5 separate regions of the Homo sapiens genome follow, and all the other regions are linked to region 2. Evidence: fine-mapped expression QTL. A gene starts in region 2. Each other region holds a variant in brackets. All regions are shown on one strand. Distances are between the middles of the regions. Region 1 overlaps MARK4 (microtubule affinity regulating kinase 4). Region 2 holds the start of MARK4 (microtubule affinity regulating kinase 4). Region 3 overlaps MARK4 (microtubule affinity regulating kinase 4). Region 4 overlaps MARK4 (microtubule affinity regulating kinase 4). Region 5 overlaps EXOC3L2 (exocyst complex component 3 like 2).

The links. PIP is the estimated chance that this variant, and not a neighbour inherited with it, causes the effect.
Region 1: its variant is fine-mapped to the expression of MARK4 in whole blood (TOPMed, PIP above 0.99).
Region 3: its variant is fine-mapped to the expression of MARK4 in whole blood (TOPMed, PIP above 0.99).
Region 4: its variant is fine-mapped to the expression of MARK4 in skeletal muscle (GTEx, PIP 0.93).
Region 5: its variant is fine-mapped to the expression of MARK4 in monocytes (BLUEPRINT, PIP 0.95).

Annotation. Positions count from the first base shown.
Region 1 is chr19:45,293,668-45,299,605 of GRCh38, forward strand. It overlaps MARK4 (microtubule affinity regulating kinase 4), which reads left to right. Exons shown (of 17, transcript NM_001199867.2): 14 at 682-785; 15 at 4,009-4,287. Among named protein-coding and RNA genes, the nearest start is that of CKM, 26 kb to the right of the region's middle. The variant G/C (reference allele first, on the strand shown) is at 2,779.
Region 2 is chr19:45,247,686-45,253,623 of GRCh38, forward strand. It overlaps MARK4 (microtubule affinity regulating kinase 4), which reads left to right and starts at 3,586. Exons shown (of 17, transcript NM_001199867.2): 1 at 3,586-3,954. The coding sequence starts at 3,904. RefSeq lists silencers at 3,261-3,640, 3,871-4,020 and an enhancer at 4,494-5,050.
Region 3 is chr19:45,281,123-45,287,060 of GRCh38, forward strand. The region is part of intron 12 of MARK4 (microtubule affinity regulating kinase 4); the gene reads left to right. Among named protein-coding and RNA genes, the nearest start is that of MARK4, 33 kb to the left of the region's middle. The variant G/A (reference allele first, on the strand shown) is at 2,622.
Region 4 is chr19:45,304,125-45,310,062 of GRCh38, forward strand. It overlaps MARK4 (microtubule affinity regulating kinase 4), which reads left to right. Exons shown (of 17, transcript NM_001199867.2): 17 at 1-1,160. CKM (creatine kinase, M-type) reads right to left here. Exons shown (of 8, transcript NM_001824.5): 6 at 4,285-4,408; 7 at 3,337-3,526; 8 at 2,289-2,804. The coding sequence ends at 2,626. Among named protein-coding and RNA genes, the nearest start is that of CKM, 16 kb to the right of the region's middle. RefSeq lists a silencer at 4,406-4,563. The variant A/G (reference allele first, on the strand shown) is at 2,653.
Region 5 is chr19:45,210,805-45,216,742 of GRCh38, forward strand. It overlaps EXOC3L2 (exocyst complex component 3 like 2), which reads right to left. Exons shown (of 12, transcript NM_001382422.1): 11 at 5,269-5,390; 12 at 1,566-2,553. The coding sequence ends at 2,265. It also overlaps a transcript of BLOC1S3 not described here. Among named protein-coding and RNA genes, the nearest start is that of EXOC3L2, 32 kb to the right of the region's middle. RefSeq lists an enhancer at 5,108-5,642. The variant G/C (reference allele first, on the strand shown) is at 2,616.

The sequences.
Region 1 (5,938 bases), 46 kb after region 2:
AAGAGGGCTCTCTTCCTAACATGTTTATGAGGCAGCATAATCCTGATATTCCCTGTGTTCCCAGAGCTCACAGCCCAGTATGGGATGGGGACATATATGAGAACAGACATTGACAGCACAGTGATTGAAGCTGCAGTGGGGAGCCCAGGGGCCTGTGGGAACCCAAAGGAGGAGGCACGTGACTCAGCCTGGGGCCGGGGGTGGTGGTAGATTATGAACTGACACCTGAAAGATATGTAGGAGTGAGTCAGGGGAAAAGGTAGGAGTAATGTTCTAACAGGTGAGACAGCCAGTGCACAGGCTAGTCACAGTGACAGAATGTGGCATGAATAAGTACATTAGCAAACGTTTGGTGTGGCTGGGCTGGACCTCAAGAAGGTGGGCATTGCTGGGAGAAGAGCGGTGGACAAGGATGCCCCCTGGAAACCTTCCCTGCCTCGTTTTCCCTCAGTGCCCCCCTCTTCTCCGGTCTCCAGGGGTCTCCCCTGACTCAGCCTCGGTGGCTGGGATTACTCATGAACCTTTCACATCTTTGGGACCTTTCACCATCTCCTACTCACCCTGGGTTCCCACATGAGCCCCTGACTTATTCATCGATGGGGAGGGCAGAGAAGGGAAGAGGGAGAAGCTCAGGGGCATGTCTTCACCCCCTCACTCCCTTCCTGGCTGTGTCTCCTGCAGAACAACCTCCCTCCTAGCATGATGACCCGCAGAAACACCTACGTTTGCACAGAACGCCCGGGGGCTGAGCGCCCGTCACTGTTGCCAAATGGGAAAGAAAACAGGTACGGAGGGGGCAGCAACAGGGTGAGGGGTGGGAAGTAGGGGGTAGGTGAACAGGACCTCCCTTGATCTGAGATGATAGGCATTGGAGGCTGGTGCCATGGGGACCAGAGAGTGAGTGTATCTGCCCTGCCCTTGGCAGAATCGACCCATGTACCCCCCTGAAAATCCTCCCCACTTAATTAATTAGTCTTAAGCACCAGGAAAGCAGTTGGCCCTGTTCTCCGCCTACAAGCCTTGGGAACCTGAATTGATTTTTTGAATGATCCATTTTTAGAACTCGAGAGAAGCCCCAGAATGTCACAGCTTCAGCGTCATCTGGTTGGCTGGTTTTCCGGCTTGTTGGCCTGAGTCTGTGAGGTCTCTTCCAGCTGGCAAGGGAGGGAAACCAGTTCAGACTGGCTGGAGCAGAGAGAGGGAAGGGATTGGTTCACATCACAGGTCAAGGCCAGCTAGAATGGGGCCAGCTCCAGGATGAGGACACTGCCCCCCACCAGGGCTGTAGGGCAGGTTGATGGCCAACACCAGGGCACACTCTGGGATGCACCTGATTAGTGGGTGCAGGTGTTCCCACTGGGTGTGGGCAGAGGAATGGGGTAGTTAACAGTCACAAATCTGTCCAGGCACAGTGGCTCATGCCTGTAATACCAGCACTTTGGGAGGCTGAGGCAGGTGGATCAAGAAGTCAGGAGATCGAGACCATCCTGGCTAACATGGTGACACCCCGTCTCTACTAAAAATACCAAAAAAAAAAAAAAATTAGCTGGGTGCAGTGGTGGGCACCTGTAGTCCCAGCTACTCTGGAGGCAGAGGCAGGACAATGGCGTGAACCTGGAAGGCGGAGTTTGCAGTGAGCCGAGATCACGCCACTGCACTCCAGCCTGGGCAACAGAGCGAGACTCCATCTCAAAAAAAAAAAGTCACGATTCTGTGAATACTCAGTTCTGAGTTCGAATCTTACCTCTGTGCTCACACTGCTAGCAGAATGACCGGGTAAATCCCTGTGCCTCTGTTTCCTCCTCGGTAAAATGGGCTTGATGCTGGCCGGGCATGGTGGCTCACACCTGTAATCCCAGCACTTTGTGAGGCCGAGGTGGGCAGATCACCTGAGGTCAGGAGTTCGAGACCAGCCTGGCCAACATGATGAAACCCTGTCTCTACTAAAAATACAAAAATTAGCCAGGAACGATGTCATGTGCATGTAATCCCAGCTACTCAGAAGGCTGAATGAGGCAGGAGAATCGCTTGAACCTGGGAGGCAGAGGTTGCAGTGAGCTGGGATTGCGCCACTGTACTCCAGCCTGAGCCACACAGCAAGAATCCGTCTCATAAAAAAAAGGGCTGATGCTGTCCACTTCCAGGCCCCATTATAGAGATGCAGTAGAGATCAGGTGTGTCCTGTACCTGGCACTGGGTCTGATGCTTAGGAGGCCTTCATTCAGTGACTTGAGAGTGCTTTTTTTTGGTGGTTATCAAATAACAATAGTGAACATTCATGAAGCAGCAGCTACATGCCAGGCTTCTATGTCTATTGCCTGGCTCAGTGCCCCTAACAACTCTGTGAGGTAGATCCTAATATCTCCATTTTACAGCTGAGGACATAAGGCACAGAGAGGTTAAGTAACTTATCCAAGGCCACACAGCTGGTAAGTCAAGAAGCAGATTCCAGACTTGACTCCAGAATCTTATTTGTAATCACTGTAGTACATGGCCTTCCAGTTCTGCTCAAGAGATAGTGGAACAGTTAAATTACAGACTCAGACAAAAAAAATCAAAAATTAAAAAAAAATTTAAAAACAACAAAAAATAAAAAGTATAGACTCAGCTAGCTGCTGTAATAAAAACAAAGAGATCCCAGGGTAGAGTAATTTAAATAAAAAGGACGTTTAGTCCGGAGGGTCCTCCAAGGACCCAGGTAAGTTCTTCCAGCCCCAAAATGAGTTTCCAGCTCTGGGACTGAGGCCGCTGCACCAGCAGCCATCATTTCCCAATCAG[G/C]AAGAAGTGGGGAAAGAGTAGGGGACAAGCAACAACTCTTTGTAAAGGCGTCACCCAGAGATGGTACAGAGCACTTCTGCTTATATCCCATTGGCCGGAGCATGGTCACATAACCATCTCTAGCTGCAAGAGAGTCTGGGAAATGTAGTCTCTGGCTGGGTGGCCATGTGCAGTGCTCATACTCTTAGGGGTTTGGTTACCAAGAACGAAACAGGGAGGATGGATTCTAAGGGAGAAGTAACAGCCTCTGCCACAATCAGGATTCTTCTCTGAGATCCAGGCTGGGCCTGGAGTCCCTGGGAGGATAGAAATTGGAGGTCTGGGCTGGGCGCAGTGGCTCACACCTGGAATCCCAGCACTTTGGGAGGCCAAGGCCAGTGGATCACCTGAGGTGAGGAGTTTGAGACCAGCCTGGCCAACATGGTGAAACCCCATCTCTCCTGAAAATACATAAACTACCCAGGCGTGGTGCTGCATGCCTATAGTCCCAGCTACTCAGGAGGCTGAGGCAGGAGAATCACTTGAACCCAGGAGGCAGAGGTTGCAGTAGCCAAGATTGCCCCATGGCCCTTCAGCCTAGGTGACAGAGTGAGACTCTGTCTCAAAAAAAAAAAAAAAAAAAATTAGCCAGGCATGGTGGCACACGCTTGTAATCCCAGCTACTCAGGAGGGTGAGGCAGGAGAATTGAACTCAGGAGATGGAGGTCTGGCCCCTGCTGTCGACTAGGAGGGTCCGAGGGGCTGGAGGAGGGTCCTGGGACAGTGGAACCCCCACTGCCCAGATTACCATAGTGAATACAGGTATCCTTGACCTTTACATCTATCCCTTTCCTGATTTTAGATGGTGAGAGTTCAGATAGCAAAGTGTTTGCCAAGTTGATTTGGTTCCTGAGGTTTCGGCAAATAGCAAGGAAGTCACCCAAAAATGTCTGTGCATCTATTCAGTTGCTGCGTTTAGAGAGAGGAGAGTTGTGATAGGAGATGATTTGGAGCGGGTAGAGTTTGAAGAAGGGACAGTTTGAAGGAGGGGTAATAGGAGAGGAGAGAGTCAGTAAAATAATGCTAGGATTGTATAGTGCACAGCCTGCACAACTGTACGTTGCAGCCCTGTCTCTGAGTTCCAGGCTGGTTGCAGTCCCTGGTCTCAGGACAGGAATGTGAAGAATCAAAGGGACTGGGGCCCTGGCCTGCCTCAGTCCCCCACCCTGACTTGTCTGTCTCTGCCCACAGCTCAGGCACCCCACGGGTGCCCCCTGCCTCCCCCTCCAGTCACAGCCTGGCACCCCCATCAGGGGAGCGGAGCCGCCTGGCACGTGGTTCCACCATCCGCAGCACCTTCCATGGTGGCCAGGTCCGGGACCGGCGGGCAGGGGGTGGGGGTGGTGGGGGTGTGCAGAATGGGCCCCCTGCCTCTCCCACACTGGCCCATGAGGCTGCACCCCTGCCCGCCGGGCGGCCCCGCCCCACCACCAACCTCTTCACCAAGCTGACCTCCAAACTGACCCGAAGGTGAGCTCCGCGGGGATGGCAGGGGCAGGGCGGGGCGGGGGGCCGATGGGACCTAACCTGTCTTCCACTCTGCTCTGTCTCCTGTACCCCAACATTTCCTCTTCCTCCTCCTCCTCCTCCTCGTTTCCTCCTCCTCCTCCTCCTTTCCTCCTCCCCTGTCACCCCTCACCTCCCTCCTCACACTGCAGGGTTACCCTCGATCCCTCTAAACGGCAGAACTCTAACCGCTGTGTTTCGGGCGCCTCTCTGCCCCAGGGATCCAAGATCAGTAAGTCCCGTCCATGCCCTGTTCTCGCTGGCTCTGCCTCCCTGCCTGCATGTCTGACCTGTGTGTGCGGGCATTGGGAGGGGGCTCTGTGGATGTGAGGGTCTGTGCGTGGGGTCTGGTTGTTCATTTACTCACAGAAGCACAGCCTATGGAGCCAGACTCGGGGGTTCAAATGGCAGCTCTGCCAAGTGACCTTGAGCAAGTCACTCAAGGTCTCTGGGCCTGGTTTTCCTCTTCTGTAAAATGGGTATAGTAATAACAATACCTGTCTCCTAGGGTTATTGTGAGGACTAAATGAAGTGACGTATGGACTGAGCGTAGAACATTGCCTTGGAAAGTGCTTTACATGTGTATTAGTTATTAATTGCTATTATTCATTGAGCCCCTACTGTGTGCCTGGCACTGTCCTAGGCCCTGTAGTAGAGGGTGAGCAAAATGTACAAAACTCCTGCCCTGGCAGACCCAACATTCTACTAAGGGATCTAGACAAAAAACAAAGAAATAAGTAAAATATACTTACTATATAGACTGCTAGGTAGTGCGAAGTAACTAAGAAGAAAAATAGAGTAGGAGCCAAATTTGGTGGCTTATGCTTGTAATCACAGCACTTTGGGAGGCTGAGGCGAGGGGATCACTTGAGCCCAGAAGTTCAAGACCAGCCTGGACAACGTAGCAAGATCCTATCTCTACAAAAAAGTAAATAAATTGGCCGGGCGTGGTGACTGCACCTGTATTCCCATGGAATTGGGAGGCCGAGGCAGGAGGATCACTTGAACGCAGGAGGTCAAGGCTGCTGTGAGCTATGATCATCAGTCTTGGCAACAGAGGGAGAACCTGTCTCTAAAAAAAAAAAAAAAAAAAAAAAAAATTGAACAGGGAGGGGAATAAGGGGTGTGGGGAAGGGATGGGGTGCAGCATTAAATGGGCAGGCCTCTGGATGAGGTGGCTCAGGCCAGCAATCCCAGCACTTTGGACAGATGACTTGAGTCCAGGAGTTTGAGACCAGCCTGGGCAATGTGGCAAAGCCCCATCTCTACAAAACAAAACAAAAAACAAAAAGCAGATGTGGCACGCGCCTGTAGTCCCAGCTACTTCAGGGGCCAAGGCAGGAAGATTGCTTGAGCCTGGGAGGTTGAGGCTGCAGCGAGCTGAGATCACGCCACTCCTGCATGACAGAGTGAGACTCTGTCTCAAAAAAAGAAAAAAGGGCAGGCCTCACGAAGGAGGTGTTGTTTGAGCAAAGCATGAATGTATATGTGAGCGAGGGAGTGTGTGTGTGTGCACACGTGCGTGTGTCTCTCTCTTTCTCTCTGTGGCCACTTATCTATGTAAGGGTGTGTCTCTGCCCACTCCCCTCCCTTTCATCTTCCACATTCTTCAGTA
Region 2 (5,938 bases):
GCAACCTCCGCCTCCTGGGTTCAAGCAATTCTTCTGCCTCAGCCTCCCGAGTAGCTGGGACGCAGGCGCTTGCCACCTGCAAGCGCCCGGCTAATTTTTTGTATTTTTTTTAGTAGAGACAGGTTTTCACTGTGTTAGCCAGGATGATCTCGATCTCCTGACCTCGTGATCTGCCCGCCTCGGCCTCCCAAAGGGCTGGGATTACAGGCGTGAGCCACCGTGCCCGTCCCCCTCCTTTTTAAAAATTATTTTTTTTATTTTGATTTAGAGACAGGGTCTCACTATGTTGCCCAGGCTGGTCTCGAACTCCTGGGCTCAAGTGATCCTCCCGTTCTGGCCTCCCAAAGTACGGGGATTACAGGTGTGAGTCACCGCGTCCAGCCCCCTTTTTAAATTTTATTATTATTTTTTATTGAAATACAATTCACATACATAAGAGTCACCCTTTTCAAACAGAGTCCGGTAGGTTTTAGTATATTCACAAGGTTGCAGCAAGCGTCACCACTATTTAATTCCAGAACATTCTCATCACCCCAAAAAGAAACCTGGTACCCATCAGCAGTCATTTCTCATTCCCCAGCCTCCAACCCCTGGCAACCATTAATCTACTTTCTGTCTATGGATTTGCCAATTCTGAATATTTCATATGAATGGAAGCATACAGTAAGTGGTCTTTTGCGTCTGACTTCTTTCGCTAAACATGCTGTTTTCTTTTTTTCTTTTTTGAGACGGATTCTCACTCTGCCGCCCAGGCTGGAGTGCAGTGGCGCGATCTCAGCTCACTGCCAGCTCCGCTTCCCGGGTTCACGCCATTCTCCTGCCTCAGCCTCCTGAGTAGCTGGGACTACAGGCGCCCGCCACCGCGCCCGGCTAATTTTTTGTATTTTTAGTAGAGACGGGGTTTCACCGTGGTCTCGATCTCCTGACCTCGTGATCCGCCCGCCTCGGCCTCCCAAAGTGCTGGGATTACAGGCGTGAGCCACCGCGCCCGGCCACATGCTGTTTTCAAGGTTCATCCACTTTGCAGCCTCCCTCTCTGTAAGCCTCGGTCCCCCCACATCTGGGAAATGGGGTGGGGACGCTGTTGGGGAAGGGAGGGCAGGGGTGGACCCTGGAGTGTGTGGGGCGCGTGTAGGGAGGTGATCGGCTGCCCCCGTGTGGTGCACGGTAGAACTGCAGCTCTCAGCGCCAATGCAGGGAACGGGTTGGGGGCGCTCAGCCCCTCTAGCCTACCCCCAAGACCCCCACTTTCACCCTGCGGCGTCCCTGGGATCACAGTACGTCTAGAACACTACCCCGGAACTCCACCCTCTCTGCCACTGTCCCTGAGGCTCCTCGGGCCATATTTGCCAAATAGTAATAATAATGTCCCCACATATGAATTTTGAATCTGGTCCCCTGTGAAGCACTTTACTCAAAGATTCTCATTTATTTGTTAGCAGTAACATTAAAATAACAAATAAATATAAACAAATTGACAAATAAAAATAGTAGCAGCCTGAGGTTGCTGCTATTATTTTTCGGAGACAGGAAACCACAGTGGTTGAGAGAGGGTCCAAGTTCTGGAACTTGGGAGCACTTGGATTCAAATTGTAGCCCTGCCACTAATTTGCCGTGTGACCTTCAGCGTGTGACGTTTCTCCCTTCCTTGGGCCTCTGTTTCCTCATCTGCAAATGGGATTGATAAAGATGCTCCCTACCTCTTGGGGTGGCAGAAAGGAGAAACTGCTCAGAGCCTGGCACAAGGGCAACTGCCATGAGTCTGTGTTGCTCATAGTATCAAGCAGTGCTGTGCTTTCACAACCAGCTTTTGGCTGAGTGCAGGGTAGTCCCAGCACTTTAGGAGGCCGAAGTGGGAGGATCGCCTGAGCCTGAGAGTTGGAGATCAGCCTGGGCAATATGGCTACAAAAAATTAGCTGGGCGTGGTGGTGCACACCTGTAGTCCCAGTGACTTGGTGGGGCTGAGCTGGGAGGATTGCTTGAGCCGGGGATGTCCAGGCTGCGGTGAGCCATAATCGTGCCACTGCACTCTAGCCTGGGTAATGCAGTGAGACCCTGTCTCAAAAACAAAACAAAGCAAAGCAAAACAAAACACCCCCAGCTCTCTGCAGGTGGGGGTGTGGAGCCTTAATTTGTAGCATTTGCCAATTTCCATGGTGTAAATATTCCCACCATGGCTAATTTCAAGCTACCAAGGTGATATCACATGGCATTTTTGCCCCCCATTATATAGTAATTTTACTGTGCAGCTACAATAGACGTAGGTAACCTCAAGATCACAGATAATGGCAAATGTAGTAAGATAACTAGGACGTGATGAGTATGTATTACTTGTACCTTTAATGTAATTTAATTGTATGTTTGCATAATTTAATTTTTAATAATGGCTGTGTTTAACAACCAGTTCCAAAATTCCTGAGACATAACAATCAGCTCGCTCCAGCCAGATCCAGCACACTGCTGTTTTAGAAGGGGAAACTGAGGCTCAGGAAAATAAGCCTCAGATAGAAGAAGGCAGGGCACAGACCCCTTCCCAAAACCATGTGACTCCCAGGCCAAGACTATGTAATGCCTGTCTTTCTTTCATCCCACCCTGGTCCACAGAGCATGGATGGTCCCCACAGCGCTGTGTGGCCTCCGAGAGGCTCTTGTCCTCTCTGGTCTCAGCCTGCCCGCATGGGGAGTGGCTGTGCCCTGCAGGCGAATACCTGCACAGGGTTCCTTCGCACCTGCCAGTGAGCAACACACGGATTCTTCCTTTCACTTTACAAACTGGGAAAGTGAAGCCCAGAAAGGGCAAGTGCTTGCCCCGGGTCATACAGGTGGACAGAGAGGGTCCCCACACCCCAGCTGGGGTGCAAAGGAGTGGATGCTGCAGCCCCAACCTGCGGGTCTGGATCTATGTGGCTGAGTGGAGGCAGCCTGACTAGGGAGGTCACTGAGCCCTCAGCAGTGGCCAAGCCCCGCACACCATCCCCTTCACCCACCCCACCCTTAGGCCTCCGAGGGGAGAGCTTCCCCCGCTCCCCCCCGCCAACTGGGGAGAGAATGGGCCAGGGGGAGGGACAATGTGGGCAGCGCCTCTGGGGTCTTCTCTGGCTCAGTCCCTTTATCTCTATCTCTTCACAGATCTCTGCGTCTCTGTATCTCTTTGTCTCTCCCTGTGTGTGTGTGGGGTCTCTCTCAGTCTTTGTCCCTCTGCGTCTCTGGGTCTCTCTGTCTCTGTCTCCCTGCGTCTCTCTCTCTCTGTCATCTGGCTCTTCCTTCATCTCCTTGCGCCTCTCCACCCTTTTGTAACTCGTCTCTCTCTCTTCGTGTCTCTCTATCTCTACGTCTCTCGATCTCTCTCTCTGCGTCTCTGGCGCTCTGCCCCGGCCTCTCTCTCCCCTTCTCTCCTCTCCAGTGCGCCTCTCGTCTCGGGCGAGAACACGCTCCCCGCCGGCGTGCCCAGACCCGCCTCCGCCCCCGGAGCCCCCGGAGCCCCCGGCGCCCCGACCAGCCCGGGCCTGCGCCTTTAAGGGCCGGCGGCGGGGGGCGGGGTCCCGGCGCCCCGCCCTGCCCGCCCCTCCCCCTGACGTCCCTTCCTCCCTCCCCAGCCCCTCCACCGCCTCCCTCCGCCGCCGCTTGGGCCGGCTCCGCGCCCCCTCCGCGGCCCCCGCCCGCCCGCCTGCCCGCCGCCCCCATGGCGCCCGGGGTCCCCGCTGCACGGGGCCACTAGGACCCTCGGCGTCCCTTCCCCTCCCCCGCCCTGCCCCCTCTCCCGCCGCGCGGACCCGGGCGTTCTCGGCGCCCAGCTTTTGAGCTCGCGTCCCCAGGCCGGCGGGGGGGGAGGGGAAGAGAGGGGACCCTGGGACCCCCGCCCCCCCCACCCGGCCGCCCCTGCCCCCCGGGACCCGGAGAAGATGTCTTCGCGGACGGTGCTGGCCCCGGGCAACGATCGGAACTCGGACACGGTGAGTGGGGCCCGGCCCCTTGGGGAGCCCTGGCTGGGTCCAGCCGCCAAACCCTTCTCCCCGTTGTACCCCTCGCCCCGCGAGCCCCTACCCTCGTTTCCTGGGCCCGACCCGGCTCGTCACCTCTCGACCCCTCCCGGACTTCCAGGCCTCTCCACCCTCCCCACCTTTTCCAGCCCAGCCCGACCCCTGGGGGCGCCCCTCTCTCGGGACCCCTCTCTTGTCCCCGTGCAGACCGCTTCCGCTCGGGTCTGTTCCCTCCAGGAAGCCCCTTCCCCTGCTTCCAGGAGCCCCTCCCTTCTCTTGCCTGTGCTAAGCCGTTTCCCCTCCAGGCCGTCCGCGTCCGACACCTCGCCCCCTCCCGGATTTGCAGGGCCCCTGACCCCCCAAGGCCCGGCCCTGGCACTCTCAGCAGGGCCTGGCCCAGTCCTGCCTCTGGCTCCGGCCTTCCCTGTCTGGGGCTGGGTGCCGGCTCCCCAGGAGCCCCCCTCCTCTTATTCCCAGCCCTCTGCCCCTCCAGGACGCACCCAGGGCGCCTGTGGGCAGCCCCTGGCAGGAAGCTGGTTTCCACCTCTCCTGGGCCCCGGCCCTTTTCTGGCTTCTTCAAGGTCTCTCCCGTCCCAGGCCTGGTCCCCATCTTCCAAGCAGCCCTGTCCCTAGATCCCAGCACCCCGGGGCCCCCAGATGCCACCTGGACCCTTTCTGGTCTCTTCCTCTCCCAGGAAGCCTTGGCCTCCAACTTCTAGGCCCTCACCTCACCCAGGCTGGTATTTCTAGGCCCTGGACCAGTCTGACTCCAGGCCTCATCCGCCCTCTATCAACTTCTCAGCTTCAGGCAGCCCCTTCCCCAACCCCCAACCTCTGGACCCCCTGCTAGGCCAAACTCAGACCCCTTCCCCACAAACCACCGTCCTTTCTCCTGCCCCAGGGCCTCCCCCTTCCTTGCTGGGAGTCTGGCCTTCCAAGGAAGCCCCCTCCTCAGCTTCAGAGGCCTTCCTCAGCTACAGGGCCTGGCCCCAGATCCTTCTTCCAGAAAACTCCTGGACCTGAAGCCTCTCGTCTTGCCCTGGTTTCAAGCCCTTTTCCCTTGGGTCAATCTGCTGGAAGCTTTCTCCCCAAATTTCTAGACCCCTTGACCTTCCCCAGGGCTCAGCCTTTATTCATCTGGGCTGCTCCTTGCCCAAGAAGTTCCTACCCCATACTTCCAGGCCCCCCAGACCCTTCTCTGGTTTCAAGGACTTCTCCTAGAAGCCCCCTTCTCTGATTCCTAGGAGCTTCCCCAAGACCCAGGGATTCCTGGCCTCTGACTTCCACTGCCCCCATGGCTTTGTCACTTTCCACCATTCCCAGGCGCCCCCTGCCCCTACACTGCTTCCCAGAGAGGCCCCTCCCCATCTCCTGTGTCTCTGATCACTGATCACTTCCAAAGACCTGCCCACCACCCAATCCTAGACTTCTCCCCACCTGGGATCTTTGTGGCTTTCTCCAAATCCTTCTGCCAGGTCCCTGTTCCCCTTCCCCCTGTTTCCCTCACCTCCGACAGACCCCCCCACACACACACACCATCAGAGAGATTTATATCTGTCCCTTCCTCATCTTGCAGATCCCTCCCTCACAGAGACCACCCCGCATCATCACTATGGGCCAGAACTCCAATTTGGAGTCTAATGAAATGCCTACCACCTCTGTTCCTTGGTCACTACAATCTACAGTGAGGTGCCAGGGGCTCCACAGTCCTGGGTTCCAATGCTGACATGGCCAGCTGGTTTGCCTTGTGTCCTCAGACAACCAGTTCTCCCTTTCTGAGCCTCAGTTTCCTGCCCTGGAAAATAGGGGTGACCGCTTGAGTGCCTCCAAGGCTTACTCGATTCAGGCGAAGGCTGGCACCTAGGAAGCACTCCACAAATGCCAGCTGCTATTGTGGCTGTGGGTATGAGTCAGACAGCCCGTGGATTCTCAGCTCAGGGCTGTTATTGGTTGTTGA
Region 3 (5,938 bases), 33 kb after region 2:
GCTGATGGCAACCTCTGCTGCACAGGTTCAAGCGATTCTTCTGCCTTAGGCTCCCGAGTAGCTGGGATTACAGGCGCCTGCCATAACCCCCCGGCTAATTTTTGTATTTTCAGTAGAGATGGGGTTTCACCATGTTGGCCAAGCTGGTCTTGAACTCCTGACCTCGTGATCCACCCTCGGCCTCCCAAAGTGCTGGCATTACAGGTGTGAGCCACTGTGCCCAGCCTTTTCTTTTCTTTTCTTTCTTTTTTTTTTTGAGACAGAGTCTCACTCTGTATCCCAGGCTGGAGTGCAGTGTCGTGATCTTGGCTCACTGCAACCTCCACCTCTTGGGTTCAAGCGATTCTTGTGCCTCAGCCTCCTGAGTAGCCGGGATTACAGGCACCTGCCACCACACCTGGCTAATTTTTGTATTTTTAGTAGAGACAGGGTTTCACCATGTTGGCCAGGCTGCTCTTATACTCCTGACCTCATGATCCACCCACCTCAGCCTCCCAAGGTACTGGGATTACAGGTGTGAGCCACTGCACCCAGCCCCCAATTTCTTACCTTAGAGACCAGTCCAAATGGCAGCTGGAATCTCTGGTCCAGGATGAAGCTCTGATATCAGAGTCAAGTTTGAATTAATCCATTGTAACTGGGGCACAGGAGGACACGTTGTACAAAGTGGCTGCTGAGAGTCTGCCCTCTGGCTTTGCCTCCACACTGAAGTAAAGGAGGCTCTGGAAGAGAGCTGGGCGGACAGCTGATTATACCCCACATTCTGCAACTGACAGACATCTCATCTGCTGCAGAAAATGAATACAGAGTCTGAGTTTAAATCTGGGCCAGGCACGGTGGCTCATGTCTGTAATCCCTTGGGAGGCCGAGGTGAGTGGATCACCTGAGGTTGGGAGTTTGAGACCGGCCTGGCCAACATGGTGAAACCCTGTCTCTACTAAAAACACAAAATTAGCTGGGCGTGTTGGTGCGTGCCTATAATCCCAGCTACTCGGGAGGCTGAAGCAGGAGAATTGCTTGAAACTGGGAGGCGGAGGTTGCAGTGAGCCGAGATCATGCCATTGCACACCAGCCTGGGCAACAGAGAGACCTCATCTCAAAAAAATTAAAAAAAAAAAAAAAAGGATACACACCACCATCAGCACCCATTAGGCATGGAGACTTCTGAGAGGTCCCTTCACCCACACACTCATCAAATTTTAACCCTCTCTTCTATTTTTTTTAACGGCTTTATTAAGGTTAAAATTCATATACCAAACAACGTACCCATTTAAAGTGCACAATTCAGGCCGGGCATGGTGGCTCACGCCTGTAATCCCAGCACTTTGGGAGGCTGAGGGCAGGAGGATTGCTTGAGCCCAGGAGTTCTAGACCAGCCTAGGCAACATAGCAAGACCCCGTCTCTACAAAAAAATTAAAAATTGGCCAGGCACAGCGGCTCACGCCTGTAATCCCAGCACTTTAGGAAGCCGAGGTGGGAGGATCACGAGGTCAGGAGTTCAAGACCAGCCTGGCCAAGATGGTGAAACCCTGTCTCTACTAAAAATACAAAAAAAGCCAGGCATGGTGGCGGGCACCTGTAATCCCAGCTACTCGGGAGGCTGAGGCAGAGAATTGCTTGAACCTGGGAGGTGGAGGTTGCAGTGAGCCGAGATCACGCCACTGCACTCCAGCCTGGGCCACAGAGCGAGACTCCGCCACCCCGCCCCCTAAAAAATTAAAAATTAGGTGTGGTAGTACACGCCTGTGGTCCCAGCTACTTGGGAGGCTGAGGTAGGAAGACCACTTGAACCCAGGAGATCGAGGTCGTGGTGAGCCGTGATCGCGCCACTGTACTCCAGCCTGGGTTACAGAGCGAGACCTCATCTCAAAAAATAAATTAAAAAGTGCACAATTCAGTGGCTTTAATATATTTATAGAGTTGTACATCTATCATGATGACCGATTTCAGAACATTTTCATTACCCCAAAAAGAAAATTCACAACTTTTAGCAATCAACTTCCAGGCAGGGCATGGTGGCTCATGCCCGTAATCCTAGCACTTTGGGAGACTGAGGCAGGCAGATCACCTGAGCGCAGGAGTTCGAGACCACTGGGCAACATGGCGAAACCCCATCTCCACTATAAAATACAAAAATTAGCCGGGCGTAGTGGCAGGCGTCTGTAATCCCAGCTACTCAGGAGTCTGAGGCAGGAGAATTGCTTGAACCTGGGAGGCGGAGGTTGCAGTAAGCTGAGATCGCGCCACTACACTCTAGCCTGGGCGATAAGAGTGAGACTTCCTCTCAAAAAAAAAAAAAAAAAAAAAAAAAAATCAACTTCCAATCCCCCTTCCACCCTCAGCTACTAATCTACTTTCTATGTCGATGAATTTGGCTATTCTAGACATTTCAGGTAAATGGAATTACACGATGTGTGGCCTTCAGTGACTGGCTTCTTTCATTTAGCAGAAAGTTTTCAAGGTTCATCCATGATATGGGTATCAGCACTTCATTCCTTTTCATTGGCAAGTAATATTCCATTGCATAGATAGACCACATTTTGTTTATCCATTCATGAACACGTGGATTGCCTCCACTTTTTGGCTGTTGTGAATGATGCTGCTGTGAACATTTGTATCC[G/A]TGTTTTTGTGTGGCTGTGTTTTGCCGTCATTTCTCTTGGGTACGTATCTGGGAGTGGAATTGCTGAGTCATCTGGTAACTGTGTGTTTAATAATAGTTTGAGGAACTTTCAGGGTGTTTTCCAACTCTGTTCGTTTTACAGCCCTGCTTGTCTGCAGGGGTGAAGTTCTTACTCTGGGACAGGTACTAGGCTGTCTGCTTGTCTAATCTTTTTTTTCTCTGTCTTACATATCTCACCTTATCTTTTTCTAGATCTCTCAGCTCCTAGATTTCTTCTTTTTTTTCTTTTTTTGAGACAGAGTCTCACTCTGTCGCCCAGGCTGGAGTACAGTGGTGCGATGGTGGCTCACTGAAACCTCAGTCTCCCAGGTTCAACTGATTCTCCTGCCTCAGGCCCCCGAGCTGGAATTACAAGCCACCTTGCCCAGCTAATTTTGTATTTTTAGTAGAGACAGGGTTTCACCGTGTTGGCCTGGCTGGTCTTGAATTCCTGACCTGAGGTGATCCACCCGCCTCGGCCTCCCAAAGTGCTGGGATTGCAGGCGTGAGCCACTGTGCCCAGCCACTCCTAGATTTCTTTTCTTTTTTTTTTTTTTGGAGGCAAAGTCTCGCTCCGTTGCCCAAGCTGGAGTGCAGTGGCGCAATCTTGGCTCACTGCAAGCTCCACCTCCCGGGTTCATGCCATTCTCCTGCCTCAGCCTCCCGAGTAGCTGGGACTATAGGTGTCCACCACCACGCCCAGCTAATTTTTTGTATTTTTAGTAGAGATGGGGTTTCACTGTGTTAGCCAGGATGGTCTTGATCGCCTGACCTCATGATCCACCTGCTTTGGCTTTGGCTTCCCAAAGTGCTGGGATTACAGGCATGAGCCACCGCGCCTGGCCCGCTCCTAGATTTCTTACATCTCAGTTTTAGAATCCAGCCCAGGGCTGAGTGCAGTGGCTTACGCCTGTAATCCCAGCACTTTGGGAGGCTGAATTGGGTGGATCACTTGAGCTCTCAAGTTCGACACCAGCCTGGGCAACATGATGAAACCTCATCTCTACAGAAAAATACAAAAATTAGGCTGGGCGCAGTGGCTCTTGCCTTGTAATCCCAGCACTTTGGGAGGCCGAGCTGGGTGGATCACCTGAGGTCAGCAGTTTGAGAGCAGCCTGGCCAACATGGTGAAACCCTGTCTCTACTAAAAATATCAAAATTAGCCGGGTGTGGTGGTGAGCACCTGTAATCTCAGCTACTTGGGAGGCTGAGGCAGGAGAATTGCTGGAACCCGGGAGGCAGAGGTTGCAGTGAGCCGAGATTGTGCCATTGCACTTCAGCCTGGGCGGCAACAGCAAGACTCTGTCTCAAAAACAAAACAAAACAATTAGCTGGGCATGGTGGTGTGCACCTGTAATCCCAGCTACTTGAGAGGCTGAGGTGGGAGGATGGTTTGAGCCTGGGAGGCCGAGGTTGCAATGAGTCCAGATCGTGCCACTGCACTCCAGCCTGGGCGATAGAGCCAGACTGCCGTGTCTCAAAAAAAAAAAAAAAAAAAAAAAAGAATCCAGCCCAAGTGTTAGCTAGAATCTCCTTGGTCCACTCATCAGGATCAGGATGGAGCTCTGATATCGAGTCCAGTTGGGATTAATCTGCTGTAATGGGGGCACAGGAGGACACATTGCACAAAGTGGCTGCTGAAAGCCTGCGCTCTGACCTCCCCTCCACACTGAAGTGAGGGAGGAGAGAGGTGTCAGGGAATCTGAGACCCAGCATGAGCCCCACACGGGAAGTGGTGCTTCTGCCCTACCCCCACCATTGCTGGAGGTCAAACCATTCCCTGCCCCTGCGTCTTGTCTTTCCCACCTGTAAAATGACAGGGCGTGCCCAGAAAGTTCCTAAGGAGCTTGTGACTTTGGTATCATATGGTTAGAACGTGGTAACCTTCAGAACTCCCCACACTGAGACCTGAGTTCCAGGGATTCTCAGAGAGGGATTGCTGGCAGGTGCCAGGTATCTGTCATTGTCATTGTAGAGCTCTCAGCTTGTGGTTCTGGGACTTCTGAGCATGTATCGCTCCTGAGGATGTAACAAGCAGACCTTCTGACCCTCTCAAGTTTGAGATCACTTTTCACCCCCGGGTTCTAAAACAGTAGATTCCTAAGATGTTCCTAGAGACCAGAATTATTTTGTGTTGCTTTTGAAATTGTTCATACAATAACATCCTTGAAAATGTGTTAGTTTGGAAAGGATAGACAGTGAAAAAGTCTTCATCCAACACATATCCCCAGCTCCCAGTTTCTCAAATGCAGCAACTGTTACGGTTTTTTGTTGTTGTTTTTGTTTTGTTTTTTGACGGAGTCTCGCACTGTTGCCAGACTGGAGTGCAATGGTGTGATCTCTGCTCACTGCAACCTCTGCCTCCCAGGTTCAAGCGATTCTCCTGCCTCAGCCTTCCAAGTAGCTGGGATTACAGGTGCATGCCACCATGCCCAGCTAATTTTTGTATTTTTAGTAGAGACAGGGTTTTGCCATGTTAGCCAGGCTGGTCTCAATCTCCTGACCTTGTGATCCACCCGCCTTAGCCTCCCAAAGTGCTGGGATTACAGGCGTGAGCCACCGCGCCTGGCCCTGTTATGGGTTTTAATATGAATTCCTTTGGAGAGATTTTATTCATAAACAAACATGTAAAGAGATAAATATGGGACCGGGTGCGGTGGCTCACGCCTGTAATCCCAGCACTTTGGGAGGCCAAGGTGGGAGGATCGCTGGAGTCCAGGAGTTTGAGACCAGCCTAGACAACATGGCGAAATCCTGTCTCTACAAAAAAAAATACAAAAATTAGGTGGGCATGGTAGTGTGTGCCTGTAGTCCCAGCTACTTGGGAGGCTGAAGTGGGAGGATGGCTTGAGCCTAGGAGGCCAAGGTTGCAGCAAGCTGAGGTCACACCACTGTACTTCAGCTTGGGCAACAGAGTGAGATCCTGTCTCAATAAAAAAATTAAAAAAAAGAAGGAAACTTAAGATATATAAAAACAATAAATTCTCCCCTTTTGAAACAAGTTATAGTCCTTTGGAGATATTCATATATAAGCAAGTAGATATAGATACACACTTTTTTGCTTTTGTAGACAAATGATAACACATTGTTGACCCATCTCTTGTCTTGCCTTTTCTACTTTCCAGTCCGTCATGAAGATCATTCTGTACTGGTGCATAAAGTGCTTCCTTATTCTTTTTTATAGCTGCATAATTTTCCACTGTGGAAATACCTTGACTTATCTAGTCATTCCTCTACTAAGGGGCATTTAGGCTGTTCCCAGTCTAATGGTACAGGCC
Region 4 (5,938 bases), 56 kb after region 2:
CCATTGCATCTATTTTTTCAGTGTAAGTTGAATTCTAGTAATTTTTATCAAGTAAGGGCTCCTTTCCTGGTGGCACAGATGACTTCAGCAGTTAGAAGTTTCTATCCCTCCAGCTTTCTGCAGCAGAAAGACCCTCATTGTCAGTTTCCCAGCAAAAGTCCCAGGGCAGACTCTCATTGGCCCAAATGGGCCATGTGATTTTCTCTAAACCAATCACTGTGACTCTAGAGTGGCCAGACTCAGAGCTGCACTTAGTAGGGGTTCCTCAAAGGAAGGTCAAGTGTCATGAGCAGGAGAAAAGGCATGGGAGCTGGACAGATTATAGTGGTTGAAGTCTGTGCAGTACAGAAGGGCGGAGCTTATTCACACAGCACCTTTGGGGCCAAAATGAATAAGCTGGACTTTCTCCCCATGGCACTGGGGAACCATGGAAGTTCAGGGAACTTCAGGGAAGAGGCTTGGTCAATTCCTGAGAGCATCCTCTGTGCTGGGGACACAGTGGTAATCAAGACAGCCCCAACACTGCCCTCATAGAGCTCACAGTCCAATGGAGGAGGCAGATGTGTCCTCAGGCAGCGACTGGGCAGGGCTGGTATAGGGGAGTCCAGAGGTGATGCCTGCCTCAGCCAGGGAGGGCTTCCTGGAGGAGAAGGAGCCAGCTAGACATGGATAGGAGTGCGTTTTAGGCACAGCAAATGGCACATACAAGGGCCAGGGAGCAAGAGAGAGGACAGGTCCTCAACAAATGGCATGTGACTTTGTAAGTGTAGAATTGCTGTGAGGTATGGGGCTAGGGGCGTCAGTAGGGCCTTGAAGGTTATGGACAGGGGCCTGGGCTTTCTTCCAAGGGCACTGGGGGAGCCATGGCAAGGTTGTAGGTAGGGTAGAGATGGGCGGGTTTGTGCTATGTGCAGGGTGGAAGGGAGGGAAGTTGACAGGTCAGAAGATCAGGAAAGAGGTCGGGGCTGGACAGATGGGGAGAGCGCAGATAGATTTAAGAGAGTCCTGTGAGGCAAAGTGGGCAGGACCTGGTAACAGGTGTCTGGACTGTGGCTTTGGCTGGCTCAGAAGGTCCCCACTGGCGTGTGTGGTCTATGTAGCCTCTGGGTGTGGAGCTGGGATCTTCAACTGGGGACAGTACAGTAAAGAACATCACAGCATCTCACAGGTTCTGCATACCTTAATGTTTAGAATCTCTCCTAACCTTCCTTGTAGTAATCTCCCTGGGAACTTTTGGGGACATCCCTAGGCCTCAATTTCCCCTCTGTAAAACAGAGGGCAGATTGAACTACAAGGGCCCTTAATCTCTGTGACTCTTGAGGTTTGAAAAAGCACCTTAGGTTCCTGAGGGCTTTGTCGGTTCTTCCATTTACTCCCACCTCACTTTTTTTTTTCCCTAAAACGTTTGTCTTTTGGGGCCCACCGACTGTGTCCTTGTTAACGTAGACATTGGCCTGTTTGACTGGGTGGAGGTGATTGACGTGCCCAACACCCAATGCATGTTCAGCTACTGCTTGACTTCTATTAACTCTTCTCCCTCCACCAATTGCTCTACCACACCTCTTTCCTGTTCCTTCCTGGGACTGAGTTCTCCAAAAGGCCTATCCCTAAAGACTTCATGGGGATGCTCAGACTCACAGATTGGAGAGGGAAACAGCTTGGTCAAAGACATTGAGGTGGGAATTGGAGGGTGTCAGGTGTGAAAGAATCAGAGGAGTAATGGGGAAAGAACTGGAAAGGTGAGCCTCCAGCAAATGGTATGCATTTCAGTGTGGCCTTGAGTTGCAAAATAACAGAAAAGCTTTCTAGGAGAAATGGGGAGCCATGGCAGGTTCTTGAGAAAGTAAGGGACTGGCAGCAGCTACAGAGGGATGAAGTCAGACGGGACAGAAGGAGGCCACTGAGAAGCAGAATATAGGTAGATGTGACGAGCTGCATGGGAGGTCTCAAAACTGGAGACCGTTGGGCTAAATTCAAGTTTCAGACATTTCGTTTGGCTGCATTCCTCCCCAGCGTGGACCTCGTGTTTGAGATCTGAGCATGACTAATTCAAAGCCATAGTTGGAAAGGGCCCATGCTTTGGGTGAGTGACACTGGGCTCAGTGTCTCTCTGGGTCTCAGATTCCCCATAGAGCCTTCTAATTTTTGGACTAGATTCTGTGACCTAACTTTGCCTCATTTTAGACCCGGGATAAGACATGTTTAGTACATGCCTAGACAGGACAAACCACTCTGAGACCACACAGTGGCCAATTGCACGTCCTCCCTCAATAACTATCGCACAAAGCTAAGGCCACCAATGCTTTTATTTATCGCTTTGCGTGGAGACAAAGCACAAGCTCCGAGTGTGCTGGGAGCTCTCCATTAACTAGAGCTCCTGGTTGGGGTGGAGCTCTGGGAAAAGAAGAGGACCCTGCCAGGGAGATATTTCATTGGCCAGAATCCAGAGGATGGAGCCCATTGGTTGGAACTCTGGTTGAAACTGGAACTCTGAGAAGGGTGGAGAGAGCCCCCAGGTGGGACTCTGGGACAGGGGGCGGGGCGAGGAGTGAGGGAGCAGGACTCTGGTGGGCCAGGCCCTCCCACTGGCTGGGTTCCAGCAGTCGGTGGCAGGTGGGCAGGCGCCTACTTCTGGGCGGGGATCATGTCGTC[A/G]ATGGACTGGCCTTTCTCCAACTTCTTCTCCATTTCCACCATGAGCTTCACACCATCCACCACCAGCTGCACCTGTTCTACTTCGGACGAGCCCAGCCGATCAGCGTTGGACACGTCAAATACTGAGCCCACGGCAGCTGTGTCCACGCCACCTGTGGGAGCAAGGGACAGGGGCGTGAAGAGGCAGCGAAGGTGCAGAGGGGCTGGGACGTGGCCCCCGTGCCAAATGCAACAGCCGCATGTAGTGAGTGCCTACTGTGTAACAGGTTACCTGCACACAGGTAATGCCTGTTCATTCGTGAGCTCACGAGTCTCTGACTTCAGATGGGGTACCACGCCACTCAGTTATCAAACATAGTATAGTGGGTAAGAGAGTGGGTTCTGGAGCCAGGCGGCCTAGGGTCGAATCCTGACCACTCCTCGCTTTATAAATGGGGAAACTGAGGCCCCGAGGGAGGTCCAAGGGCATGTGCAATGCATATTATATAATCATGAAAATCCCACATTGACTCCTATCACATAGGCATATTGACACCCATTTTACAGAGGAAGAAATGCAAGCTCACAGAGGGTCAGCCCTTGCCGGATCCCCAGAACTCGCAGGGATGTCGCACCTCTCCTTGCATCCCTGCAAAGGGCCCTCGCTCCCCCTCCGTCGTGGTGCAAAGGATGTGGGAGCCGTACCTGTACCCCTCTTCTGCAGACGCAGGCGGGTGAGGATCTCCTCGAACTTGGGGTGCTTGCTCAGGTGCGCCAGCTTCACATGCACGCCTCCACGCAGCCCAGTGCCCAGGTTGGATGGGCAGGTGAGCACGTAGCCCAGGTGCTGGTTCCACATGAAGGGGTGGCCAGCTTTCTTAAAGATCTCCTCAATCTGAGGTTCAGAGAGAGGACCAGGGGTCAGCGCCGGCAGGCACCCCCAAATGCACCCGCAACATGGACAGGGTCCGGAGGGACAGGGCGTGGGAACGTGGTGGAGGTGGGATTCTGAGGGGAACAGGGAGGTAGGAGATTCCGAGGGTGCTGGCTAGACAATGGGGACCAAGGCAGGATTTTGAGGGGCGGGGACTAAGAACGCTTTGAAGGCGGGTTTTTTTTTTTTTTTTTTCCAGAGTCTCTCTGTGTCACCCAGGCTGGAGTGCAATGGCGTGATCTCGTCTCACTGCAACCTCTGCCTCCCAGGTTCAAGCGATTCTCCTGCCTCAGCCTCCCGAGTAGCTGGGACTACAGGCGCGCGCCACTACGCCTGGATAATTTATTTATTTATTAATTTTTTAGTATAGAGACGGGGTTTCACCATGTTGGCCAGGCTGGTCTTGAACTCCTGACCCTCCTCAGCCTCCCAAAGTGCTGGGATTACAGGCGTGAGCCACCGCTCCCGGCCTGAAGGCGGATCCTTACGGGCGGGGCTTGGGCATAGGGTGGAGCTGGGTCCAGGGGCGGGGCCCTGAAAAGCGGGTGGGGCTAGTTTTGGGGGGCGGGGTTTGGCATGGGGTGGAGCCAGGTCCGGGGGGCAGGGCCCTGGAAAATGGGTGGGGCAGGGCTTAGTATAGGGGAAGGGGCGGGGCCTCGGAAAGCAGGTGGGGCGTTCAAGGTGGAGTCAGAAGTCAGCAGCTAAGGGCAGACACCCACCTTCTGCAGCCCTACGCAGAAGCGGCGGAAAACCTCCTTCATGTTGCCCCCCTTCTCCATGGAGATGACCCGGAGGTGATCCTCCTCGTTCACCCACACCAGGAAGCTCTTGTTGTCATTGTGCCTAGAGTAAGGTGCCGCAGCAAGAGGCCAAGGTGTCAGCCCCGTGGGAACCCCATTCCCAGCCCTCCCCCAAAACATCTGCCCACCGATGGGGGAAGAGGGCCTGAGGGGTGGGAGGTGGGTGGCATCTGCCTCCTCAAAACGCAGAAGCTTAAACCTGTAGACTCTAATGTCACAGGATCTGCAAAACGCTGAATCCTGGGATCAAGGACTTTTAGGGACTTAAGTCTTTGAACAGTATTATTATAGATCCTTGGGATCTCAGGATGTTTGACAAACAGAAGCTTGGGATCAGAACTGATAACACTTGGTAATCCTACATCTGGTTTCAGGACCAGAAAATCTTCCCATCGTAGTGTGTTAGCTCCCAATCCTAGCATCTCAGAAGCAGGATCTTAGAACATAAAATATTAAGGCTGGGTGCGGTGGCTCACGCCTGTAATCCCAGCACTTTGGGAGGCCGAGGCGGGCGGATCACAAGGTCAGGAGATCGACACCATCCTGGCTAACACGTCGAAACCCTGTCTCTACTAAAAAATACAAAAAAAAATCTGGGCATGGTGGCGGGCATCTGTAGTCCCAGCTACTCAGGAGGCTGAGGCAAGAGAATGGCGAGAACCCGGGAGGTGGAGCTTGCAGTGAGTCGAGATCGCGCCACTGCACTCCAGCCTGGGCAACAGAGCGAGACTCCATCTCAAAAAAAAAAAAAAAAAAGAACATAAAATATTAAGATCCGGAAATGGCCGGGTGTGGTGGCTCATGCCTGTAATCCCAGCACTTTGGGAGGCCAAGGCCGGAGGATTGCTTGAGCCCAGGAGTTCAAGACTACCCTGGGCAACATGGCAAGACCCACATATCTACAAAATTTAAAAAATTAGCAGGCATGGTGGGACACATGCCTGTAGTCCAAGCCACTGGGGAGGCTGAGGCGGGAGGATCACTTGACCTTGGAAGGTCCAGGCTGCAGCGAGCTATGATCCCACCACTGCACTCCAGCCTGGGCAACAGAGCAAGACCCTGTCTCAAAAAAAAAAAAAAAAAAACCTGAGGGCAGGCATGGTGGCTCACGCTTGTAATCCCAGCACTTTGGGAGGCTGAGGTGGGCGGATCACTTAAGGTGAAGAGTTCGAGACCAGCCTGAGCAACATGGCAGAACGCTGTCTCTACCAAAAATACGAAAACTAGCTGGGCACAGTGGCACATGCCTGTCGTCCTAGCTACTAAGGAGGCGGAGGGTGAGAGGATCGTTTGAACCCGGGAGATGGAGGTTTCAGTGAGTCGAGATCAACCCACTGCACTCCAGCCTGGGCCTCAGAGTGAGAGTCCATCTCAAAATAAATAAATAAATAAATGAGTGGAATCTTAAAACCTAAAAATATTTAAAATCTTGAAATCTTAGAATCATCCCATCTGTATATCTTAGCACCCAGGCTCCCTTCATCGATTGAAACCTAGGTTCTCTAAATCTTTGACTATCTGAATCAGGGATTCAAAGAGTCAAAACAAGTCTAGCAATAATACTTTATAATAA
Region 5 (5,938 bases), 37 kb before region 2:
CAAACTGAGGCTCTTATATGTTTAATTCAACGCCTACAGGGCAGTGGCAGTGGCTCACGCCTGTAATCCCAGCACTTTGGGAGGATGAGGCAGGAGGATGGCTTGAGGCCAACCTGGTCAACATAGTGAGACTCTGTCTTTACAAAACAAATAAAATATTAGCTGGGTGTGCTGGCACGAGCCTGTAGTCCCAGCTACTCAGAAGGCTGAGGTGGGAGGATCACTTGGGCTAGGAGGTAGAGGCTGCAGTGAGCTATGATCGTGTCATTGCACTCCAGCCTGGGCAACAGAGCAAAGACCCTGTCTCTAAAAAATAAATAATAAATGTCTATGGACTGCACAATATTGTTGATTCCTCAACTCCTCTCTTGCTCTTTTGCATATTGGCAACATAAAAAGTGTCATTTTCGGGCTGGGCACAGTGGCTCATGCCTGTCATCCCAGCACTTTGGGAGGCTGAGGCGGGTAGATCACTTGAGGTCAGGAGTTGGAGACCAGCCTGGCCAACATGGTGAAGCCCCGTCTCTACTAAAAATACAAAAATTAGCTGGGTATGGTGGTGGTGGAGGGGGGGCACCTGTAATCCCAGCTACTCAGGAGCCTGAGGCAGGAGAATAAATTGCTTGAACCTGGGAGGTGGAGGTTGCAGTGAGCTGAGATCGCGCCATTGCACTCTAGCCTGGGCGACAGAATGAGACTCTGACTGAAAAAAAAAAAAAAAAGAAAATGTCATTTTCAGAGGGCAAAGTGAGGAAGGTGCACCCTCAGGACATTCTTGCCTCAGCCTGGGGAAAGAGAGTTTAAGCAATTCCCCCAGAAAGGCACAGGAACCTCAGCCCAGAGAGGGGCAGCTTCCTGCCTCGGGTCAGGAAGCACAGCCTTGGGCTCCGAGAGTCCCTCGTCTCTACCTCCCCAAGTTCAAATGTGCATGCGTGAAGTTCCAAACCCAGCCCCAGTGCTAACCCCTGGCTGCCTCCTCTTTCTGACTTCTCAGGGAAAAAAAAAAAAACCACATACACACAAAAAATCCCACAAGTCAGGAAACATCCATCACGGGCTGTCCAGCCCAGGCCGGAGGGGCAGGAGTCAGCAGGGAGGTGACCTCAAGGTCTCCGTGGGGACTAGGATCCGGCGGGGCTGGGGGTGAGAGGCTGGAAATTTTCCCACCCCGAGACTTTCCTGCGTCAACCCAGGAGGGCGCCCTGGATGCCGCCAGCCCTGCCCCCAACCTCCTTCCTCTCCTGACAGGGCAGCTTCCCGGCTAAGGATGGATGGGGAGGGTGTGCCAAGATGGAGCCACCAGGACCAGGAATGGACAGGCACTTTGAGATTGACCAGACGAGGGACCCTGGCTCAGAGTGGCGAAGGCCTGGCCTCAGAGCCACACAGCCAGGAGGTGTACATGGGTTGGCGTCGCTCCCAGCACATGCAGCCTCCCTCTACCTCCACTACCCTGCCCAGGAGCTGGAGCCCAGCCCGGCCTTGGGTGTGTGAGAAGCCACTGGCCCGGGGCCCTGCTTCCCCGGTCCTTCCTCCCCACAACACACTCAGGACTCAGCCCTTCCTTGTGTTAAATAGAAACCTCTTTATTCTAAGTATCGAACGTTCCTTAATACATTGGATTGGGGCCAGACCTTGAGGTGAGGGAAAGGGGCGGGGGAGCTGGGATATTTCTGTAGAGACTTCCAGAACGACACTCACCACTCTGGGCTATGGCAGGAGGGGAGGTGCTGGGAACAGGCTTCATGGCCTTGGGAAAATGCTTTGTCTCTTTGGCCTCTGTTTCCCCCTACCTTTTTTTTTTTTTTTTTTTTTTGAGAAAGGGTCTTGCTTTGTTGACCAGGCTGGAGTGCAGTGGCACAGTCATAGCTCACTGCAGCCTCGAACTCCAGTGATCCTCCAGCCTCAGCCTCACCAGTAGCTGGGACTACAGGCACACACCACCGTGCCCAGCTAATTTTTTATTTTTTGTAGAGATAGGGGGCAGGTCTCACTATGTTGCCCAGGCTGGTCTTGAACTCCTGGGCTCAAGCAATCCTCCGGCCTCAGCCTCCCAAAGTGTTGGGATTACAGGCATGAGCCACCGTGCCTGGCGTTTGTTTCCCTTCTGTACAGGGAGTTTGGGGTTGGGTGAAAAGACATCTAAGGGTCTTTCTATCCCAGGGGTGTGTGGTCCCAGGCAGGGAGTCAGGAGGGGCGCCGTACGGGAGGTTGGCTTGTCAGCAGCATAGATGGGGTCACTAAGGCCGGCGGTTGGGTGACCCTCAGCGCTGGGCCCGAGGTCGCGCTAGAGACGGAGGCCGGGGCCGAGGCAGACAGGCCAAACTGGGCCTGGCCAGCCGGGAGAGGGGGAGGCGGCCCAGGAAGAGAGGGAGGCTGAGACAGAAAGATGGGCGGGGCACAGGGATGTCTGCAAAGAAGGCACGGTCCCGAGGGGGTGACAGGGCTCCCTCCTCAGAGAGTTCCAGGTCCCGGGCCACGGCCAGGATCTCCTGGCGGGCGGCTGTGTTGCGCAGGCCACGGATGTCGAGGAGGGCTGCCACGTGCTTCTGCCTGTGGGGAGAGGAACAGACAGGTGCATGCAGATCCCCAGCTCTAGACACACACCCAACCCA[G/C]CCGTGGACCCCACCTGACCCCCTCACCTATCCCAGAAATTGCCTGAGTTCTGGGGCCTCTGTGTCCCCTCCAGAGCCTTCCCTCCAATCAGCTCCCTTGCCCAGGCCCTCACCTCATACCAGCTCCCTCCAGAACTTCACTTCCAACCATCTCCAAATCCCCCTTACAACCAACCCCAGAACCAGCCCTGGGATCTTCCTTTTCACCCCAAGCCTCAGCTCGTGATTAAAATTCACCTTCTCAGCTGGGTGCCGTGGCTCATGCCTGTAATCCCAGCACTTTGGGGGGCCAAGGCAGGCGGATCACCTGAGGTCAGGAGTTCGAGACCAGCCTGGCCAACATGGCGAAACCCTCTCTCTACTAAAAATACATTAAAAAAAAAAAAAAGCTGGGTGTGGTGGCAGGCGCTTGTAATCCTAGCTACTCAGGAGTCTGAGGCAAGAGAATCCCTTAAACCTGGGAGGCAGAGGTTGCAGTGAGCTGAGATCGCGCCACTGCAGTCCAGCCTGGGTGACACAGCGAGACTCCATTTCAAAAGTAAAAAAAAGAAAGAAACCTTGTACCCCACTCCCCCTAAATCCTCAGCCCTAGGTACCTCCTAATCTCAAGCTCAACCCCCTAAACCCAACCCAGCTAGCAAACTCTTAAACTTAGCTACAGATTCAAGTTCTGACTCATGATCCAATATTCAAGTTCAGAAACTCCACATCAGCAAGAATACTGGGACTTCTTGGGACCCCATGGGACTCCAGGAATATGTGCCTTCCCAAGGACATGACCTTATCCCCCAGAATCAGAACTGACCACCCTGAATCAATTCCAGGACCCCCACCCTCAGTGCTGAAACTGAAACCCGCTCATGCCTCACTCCTTGTTTTTCTGGGGTTCTGTTTCTCTGAGTATGTCTGAGAATGTGTCTGCCCAAATAGCACTGCAAGGACTGGCGTTGCTCCGGCAGCCACCACCACTGCCACCACCATCCAGCACTGTCACATGGTGGTGTGGTGTGCTGATCTGGTACACTAGTTTTTTTGTGTGTTTGTTTGTTTGTTTGTTTGTTTTGAGACAGAGTCTTGCTCTGTTGGCCAGGCTGGAGTGCAGTGGCGCGATCTCAGCTCACTGCAACCTCCGCCTCCTGGGCTCAAGCAATTCTCCTGCCTCAGCCTCCCGAGTAGCTGGGATTACAGGAGTGTGCCATCACACCTGGCTAATTTTTGTATTTTTAGTAGAGACGGTGTTTCACCATGTTGGCCAGGCTGGTCTCGAACTCCTGACCTCAGGTGATCCACCTACCTCGGCCTCCCAAAGTGCTGGGATTACAAGCGTGAGCCACCATGCCCGGCCGATCTGGTGTACTAGTTTTAGAGCCAGTCTACTGCCTGGGTTCAAGTTCCACCTTTGCCACTTGCTAGGCGTGATATTTCAATAGCTTTAATTATACCCCTTACTTATAGGCCAAGCGCAGTGGCTCACGCCTGTAATCTCAGCACTTTGGGAGGCAGAGGCAGGCGGATCACCTGAAGTCAGGAGCTCAAGACCAGTGTGGTCAACTTGGTGAAATCCCATCTCTACTAAAAATACAAAAATTAGCCGGGCGTGGTGGCACATGCCTATACTTGGGAGGCTGAGGCACAATAATCTCTTGAACCCGGGAGGCAGAGGTTGCAGTGAGCTGAGATCACTGCACTTCAGCCTGGGCGACAAAGTGAGACTCTGTCTCAAAAAACAAAACAAAACAAACAACAACAAAATACCCCTTATAAAGTTGGCATGGGCTGGGCAACGGTGGCTCACACTTCCCCATTCGTGGGAAGCCGAGGCAGGCAGATCACTTGAGCCCAGAAGTTCGAGACCAGCCTGGGCAACATGGTGAAACCCATCTCTGCAAAAAATACAAAAAATTAGCTGGGCATTGTGGTGCATGCCTGTGGTCCCAGCTACTCAGAAGGCTGAGGTGGGAGGGCTGCTTGAGCCCAGGAGGTCAAGGCTGCAGTGAACCGTGATTGTGCCACTGCACTCCAGCCAGGGAAACAGAGTGAGACCCTGTCTCAAAAAAAAAAGAAAAAAAGTTGGCATGTAAGATGCTTATTTAGGTCTGAAATAAGAACTCATTGAGTGAGAACTGGAATTGTTACTATAGTCATGGATGATGATGATGATGATGATGATGATAAATTTCCCTAATAACCCTATGACGAGAATACTACTATCCCCATGGAACGGATGAGGAAACTGAGGCTCCGAGAAGGTCACCTACAAAGGAAGTGACCTGGCAGGAGTTGAATGCCGCCTGCGCCTGCCGCTGTCCCAGTGCGTGTGCGCCCGTGTGCCCTGCGTGTCCCTGAGTCCCCTGCGGCTCCCCTGCGGGCTGGCCCTTCCTGCCTCCAGGCAGCCCTGCGCCCCCCTGCCCTGGGCTTCCTGTGACCGCCTGTTTGTTTGTGAGCCCTGGTGGCGGTGGCGGCGGAGGCAGCAGCGGCGGCAGGAGAAGGAGGGAAATCTTATTAATAATGCCCTGGTTCCAGCAGGAAACGGCCGTCAGACACGCTCACCGGCTCCCTCCCTCAGGAGGCAGGAAGCACAGGGACGGATGCCAAGGCCGCCAGGAGACCTCGGCCAGGCACGGCGAGCCCTGGCCCAGGCGGGGTGTCTCACCTGATGTCTGGGTAGTCGCGCACCAACACTCCCACCTCCACCTGGATGCTGGGCGTGTCTTCCAGCTGCATGACTTCAGCCAAATGGGGCACCACGGCATCCAGCCACGAGGCCTGGGACTCCTGCAGGGGAGGGAGGGTGCGGGGTCACACCCTCCCAAGATTGACCCTGCCAATTCCTGCCCCTCCTGGCTTGTTATACCATCTCTAAAATGTAGCAGAAACCAGGGGTGGTGGCTCAAGCCTGTAATCCCAGCACTTTGGGAGGAGGCCGAGGCGGGTGGATCACTAGAGGTCAGGACATCGAGACCAACCTGGCCAGTATGGTGAAACCCCATCTCTACTAAAAATACAAAAATTAGCCAGGCGTGGTGGTGCACACCTGTAATCCCAACTACTCAGGAGGCTGAAGCAGGAGAATCACTTGAAATCGAGAGGCAGAGGTTACAGTGAGCGGAGACTGCACCACTGCACTCCAGCCTGGGTGACGGAGCGAGACTCTGTCTCAAAAATAAAGAATAAAAATAAAAATAAAAAATAAAATGTAGCAGAAGACATACTATGGCCACATTTGAGAAAAATCCATAATATAATCTCCTCCCAGTTTTGCAGGTAATTTGGAACTCTGGGAAACATCTCCAAACCTCTTCCACGTCTGCAAAATCTTGCCT